Linked DNA regions of Homo sapiens: region 1 is linked to region 2. The links come from fine-mapping of genetic effects on gene expression. Tissue or cell type: nucleus accumbens. Region 2 holds a variant in brackets; the other region holds the start of a gene. All regions are shown on one strand. Distances are between the middles of the regions.

What was found. PIP is the estimated chance that this variant, and not a neighbour inherited with it, causes the effect.
Region 1: VPS37B starts here. The variant in region 2 is fine-mapped to the expression of VPS37B in nucleus accumbens (GTEx, PIP 0.94).

Annotation. Positions count from the first base shown.
Region 1 is chr12:122,894,733-122,897,232 of GRCh38, reverse strand. It overlaps VPS37B (VPS37B subunit of ESCRT-I), which reads left to right and starts at 1,109. Exons shown (of 4, transcript NM_024667.3): 1 at 1,109-1,281. The coding sequence starts at 1,171. RefSeq lists a silencer at 966-1,115 and an enhancer at 1,296-1,445.
Region 2 is chr12:122,749,235-122,751,987 of GRCh38, reverse strand. No RefSeq gene overlaps it. Among named protein-coding and RNA genes, the nearest start is that of DENR, 2.2 kb to the left of the region's middle. RefSeq lists enhancers at 1-668, 1,772-2,066. The variant A/G (reference allele first, on the strand shown) is at 1,295.

The DNA of each region.
Region 1 (2,500 bases), 150 kb before region 2:
AGAAACAAAGCAAAAGCCCAAAAAATTTCCCCTTCTCAGGGCTTCAGTTCCCTTATGTGTAAAATTAGGGGGCTGTCATGGTTAACCTCAGCCTTAGGTTTCTTCTAACTAGAACTGTGACAGATTCCAAAGTAGGATAATGAGTTCCCAGGCTCCTGGATCTTAAGAGGCTTCCCGGTAGCTGAGAGACTGAGAGCGACTGCACCCTAAATCGTGTTGTTTCTGAAAGAGCACAGGTTGGCCCACCTGGATGTCTGGGCACCTTCCTCTGAGGTGATGCAAAGGGGCCACTCAATGGGTCCTTGCTCAAAATGCTCCAGCCTTACTGGCCTTCTTCCCATTCCTGAATGCACCAAGTTAGTCCTGTCCCAGGGCCTTTGCACGTGCTGGTTTTGCTGCCTTGAGCTTCCTACAGGAATGGTGGCTGGTTCCTCCCTTCTCATCCTTCACATTTCCTTAGACGCCACCTTCTCCGAAAGTGCCATCTCTTACTACCCTAAAGGTCTTTTTATTTTCTTATTTCAGTGTCCATTCCCTTATTTGTGATCGCCTAATTATTTTACTTATTTCTTGTTTTGTTTGCGTCCTCTTTCATTCTGTTAGCTCCATGTAAGCAGGGGTCCGTTTTGCTTTATTCAGAACTGTATACTCAATGCCCAGTACAGAGTAGGTCTCAAAACATATTTGTTAAATGAATGACGTGGCAGCTCCACAATTCCAAGTAACCAATGACACCTAAAGTTGTTTCCCCATGAAGTCTCTGTCTTTTGGGTTCCGTGCATCGGGCTGGGCTCACAGGCTGCGGGAACTTCCTTCCCACTGCCTGTTTTCCTTGGATCGCGGTATCTCTCTTCCTGGAGGAAAAAGGCTCTTATGACCTCATGGCGCGCTCTCCCGAGCCGCAGTGACGTCATTAATGCGCTCACGCGTCACAGCCCAATCATAGGGCCCTTCCCCTCCCTTTAGAAGTCCCGACTGTCCCTGACACATTCCACTCCAAGCGAGCCGCGACACTTACGTCACGTCCGCCCGCCCGCGCGGTGATGACGTCACGACCCAGGGCTGGCGTCACGTGTCCCCCCCGCGGGGGGCGGCCCTTGAGGGCGGCGCTTCCGGTCGGCGGAGCCTGGTGGCCGCAGCGGCGGTGGCGACGACGGCCGAGACGTGGGGATGGCGGGCGCCGGGAGCGAAGCCCGGTTCGCCGGGCTGTCGCTGGTGCAGCTCAACGAGCTGCTGGAGGACGAGGGCCAGCTGACGGAGATGGTGCAGAAGATGGAGGAGGTGAGCCGAGCTGGGCTTAAGGCGGCGGCTGTGAGGCCTCGAGCGGGGTTCGCTCCTCGAACGGTGGCCGGAGGCGGAGGCGACCGCGGCGCCTCCGGTCGTGTTGAGGGGACTGGGCTAGAAATGGGGGCGCTTGGGGCGGGGTGCGGGAGCCAGGGAACCGCGACTGGTGCTTAGGCAGGAATAGGGGGCCTGAGAGGGGGTTTGAGGCACTGAGGGGACCGAGACTAGGGCGGAGGCGGGAAAAAGGGTCCTGAGACGGGGCTTGGGGAGCCGATTGGGGGTCCTGAGACAAGGTTTTGTGGGGCTGAGGACTTAAGGCTGGGTCTGAAGACTTAAGGCTGGGTCTGAAGTGGAGATTAGGGAGCCTGGAATGGGAATTTGGGGATTAGAGTGCTATCGTTGGGTCTAGGCGGAAGAGGACGGAACTGGGGGGATCTGAGATTGGTTTGGTCGGAGGAGCGGGGAGAGTAATAAGGGCTGAGTCGGAGGCGAGGATTAGGGGTGACTGAGGGGGACCAAGAGCTAGATCTGGTAGAGGTTGGGGGGTTTCCTTTGAGAGGAAAGGTTGGGGACAACCAGGGGGACTGAGGCAGCTATAGGGGATCAGAGTAGGTTTTGGGGGACTGAGTGGACTATCCAAATAGGACTCTTAGGAGAGGATTGAGGGTTCCAAGATGGGTTCGGGAGGCTGAGGGTCTGTAGCTGAGTCTATGAGGTGGTTCTGAGGCTCTTTAAGGGTTGGGCGAGGGTCCCCAGCCCAGGGTTTGGAGGCAGGAGTCCATGGTCATACCATAGCCAGGGTAAGGTTTGAAGGTTCCATGTATCTAAGGGGTCCCAATAATGCCCCTGGAGTCTGACTTCTTTTGAAGTGGCCCCAGCAGAGTTACGGGAGTTCGTGGATGGGCCTAAGGGTGGCGACAGGATACGTTTTTCTGTAAGGGTTGCCCCCTCCACCGAGGAAGGGAAGGTGGGAAATTTAGTGTGGCTGGCTTTGTACCACTGCGTCCCACGTGTCTGGGACTAAGGAAGGTTCCTGGAGCAGTTTCAGGAAGAAGTTAAAATGGGGGTTTGGGGCTGGCTGCCAACCCTCACCTCTGAGAGTCAAGCCTTGCCCAGCCCCTGGAAGGCATGTGCCAGCTCCTGTTTCTGGTTATCTTCCTTCACACCTTGAGGTGTGGTTTGCTCTCGGGTAACTGACTTCATCCTTGCAGATTTG
Region 2 (2,753 bases):
ATCTCCCTATGCTGTCCAGGCTGGTCTCGAACTCCCGGACTCAAGGGATCCTCCCGCCTCCGCCTCCCAAAGTGCTGGGATTACAGGCGTGAGCCACCGCGCCCGGCCTACAATTTTTTTTAATGAAAAAAAGAAAAATGTAAGAGTATGGGAATATATGGGGAAAAGAAAGATCAGATTGTTACTGTGTCTGTGTAGAAAGAAGTAGACATAAGAGACTCCATTTTGTTCTGTGCTAAGAAAAATTCTTCTGCCTTGAGATGCTGTTAATCTGTAACCCTACCACCAACCCTGTGCTTCCTGAGACCTGTGCTGTGTCAACTGAGGGTTAAATGGATTAAGGGCTGTGCAGGATGTGCTTTGTTAAACAAATGCTTGAAGGCAGCATGCGCCTTAAGAATCATCACCACTCCCTAATCTCAAGTACCCAGAGACACAATACACTGCAGAAGGCCGCAGGGACCTCTTCCTAGGAAAGCCAGGTATTGTCCAAGGTTTCTCCTCATGTGATAGTCTGAAATATGGCCTCGTGGGAAGGGAAAGACCTGACCATTCCACAGCCCGACACCTGTAAAGGGTCTGTGCTCAGGAGGATTAGTAAAAGAGGAAGGAACACCTCTGTGCAGTTGAGATAAGAGGAAGGCATCTGTCTCCTGCTCGTCCCTGGGCAATGGAATGTCTCGGTGTAAAGCCCGATTGTATATTCCATCTACTGAGATAGGGGAAAACCGCCTTAGGGCTGGAGGTGGGACATACTGGCAGCAATACTGCTCTTTAAGGCATTGAGATGTTTATGTATATGCACATCAAAAGCACAGCACTTTTTTCTTTACCATGTTTATGATGCAGAGACATTTGTTCACATGTTTTCCTGCTGACCTTCTCTCTACTATTATACCCTATTATCCTGGCACATCCCCCTGTCCGGGAAATGCCTGCTAATGATCAATAAATACTAAGGGAACTTAGAGGCCGGTGCGGGCACGGGTCCTCCGTATGCTGAACGCCGGTCCCCTGGGCCCATTTTTCTTTCTCTACAATTTGTCTCTGTGTCTCTTTCTTTTCCAAGCCTCTCGTTCCACCTGACGAGAAATGCCCACAGGCGTGGAGGGGCAACCCACCCCTTCAGGAATAGATCTTGGTTTCAAGAATAGTTGGATCCTGCAGATAAAACAACGTATTCTAGAACCTTTCTCTCACTCTTGCTCTCAGAGAATTCTAAAACAAATGTGAGAAGTGTGTATGTTTGGTGATTTTGGGTAAACACATGGGAGTTTCTTCATACTATTCTTGT[A/G]GATTTTCTGTACATTTGAAATTATGTCAAATTTACAAGTTTTTTTTTTTTTTTTTTTTTTTTTTTGAGACAGAGTCTCGCTCTGTTGCCCAGGCTGGAGTGCAGTGGCACGATCTCGGCTCACTGCAAGCTCCGCCTCCCGGGTTCACGCCATTCTCCTGCCTCAGCCTCCCGAGTAGCTGGGACTACAGGCGCCTGCCACCACGCCGGGCTAATTTTTTGTATTTTTATTAGAGACGGGGTTTCACCGTGTTAGCCAGGATGGTCTCGATCTCCTGACCTCGTGATCCGGCCGCCTTGGCCTCCCAAAGTGCTGGGATTACAGTTGTGAGCCACCGCGCCCGGCTTACAAGTTTTTTTTTTTTAAGGTTGCTATCTCTTTTCATCTGTTGGCTCTATCCCTATGTTTTCTTCCTACTGCTTACTTACGTTATTTTCTATTAGTTTAACCATCCCAGAAGAAAGAGATATTTATCTTTTCCAACAGTTCCAGGGAACAACTCAGGTGAATGTCTCATTAGCATTTTGAGTCATGTGCTCATCCCTGGGCCAGTCACAGTGGCCACAGGGATGGAATGATCTGATTGGCCAGACCTGGTCACATGCCTATTTTTAGAGGCAAGGGGTGGAACCAAATCCCCAATCCTCCAAACCTCGGAGATGGATGGAGAGGGCGGAATCTGTTGCCCAAGGAAAATCAGGATGCTAATGCCCAAGTAGAGTGCCTGGATGCTGGGAAGACAAAAACAACACATAAATAGGCCATCATCTGCACTCTTGATCCCAGAAGCCCTGCTCAAAGGGAGAAGGATTAGGGGACTGAGATGAAGAGGGAGGAGCGGCACCACAGCAGTTAATAAAAAGCAACCTGTTCTGCTTCTCCAAAAAGTAGACGTTTAATAAGGTCATTTGCTCTTGCAGCACAGGACTGACAAGGGACACAACCAGTTCTGTCACAAGAGGCCCATAAACATTCAATGTAGAGGAGGACTAATTTTAAAAGATGATACAATTTTATCGGGATGAGATAAGCACTTTGTTAAGTCAGGCAGCAAAACCTGTCTTTGCTTAGTCAAACCAAGGACCCCCTCATATGAGGGACCCAGAGTATCAGAAGTATCAGCATAAACGCATCTCACTGGTTGAAGCTGGGATGACCCGCCACAGGTCGATTCTCAGTGGACTAAAAGCACTGGCAGAGGATCAGCTTGACTCTAATTCTGTGCTCCCAGACACTCTGAGAGTCTTACTACAATGCATTTTAGTCTTTTATTGTAAAAATATTACATGCTTCTTGCAAAATATTCAAACCATACAGAAGCATATACAGTAAAAAATGAAGGTTTCTCTCTCCCCAGAGTACTGTGACAGTTTGGTCATATAATTATAATAATAATAGTAATAGGGCGGGCGCGGTGGCTGAAGCCTGTAATCCCAGCACCATGGGAGGCCGAGGCAG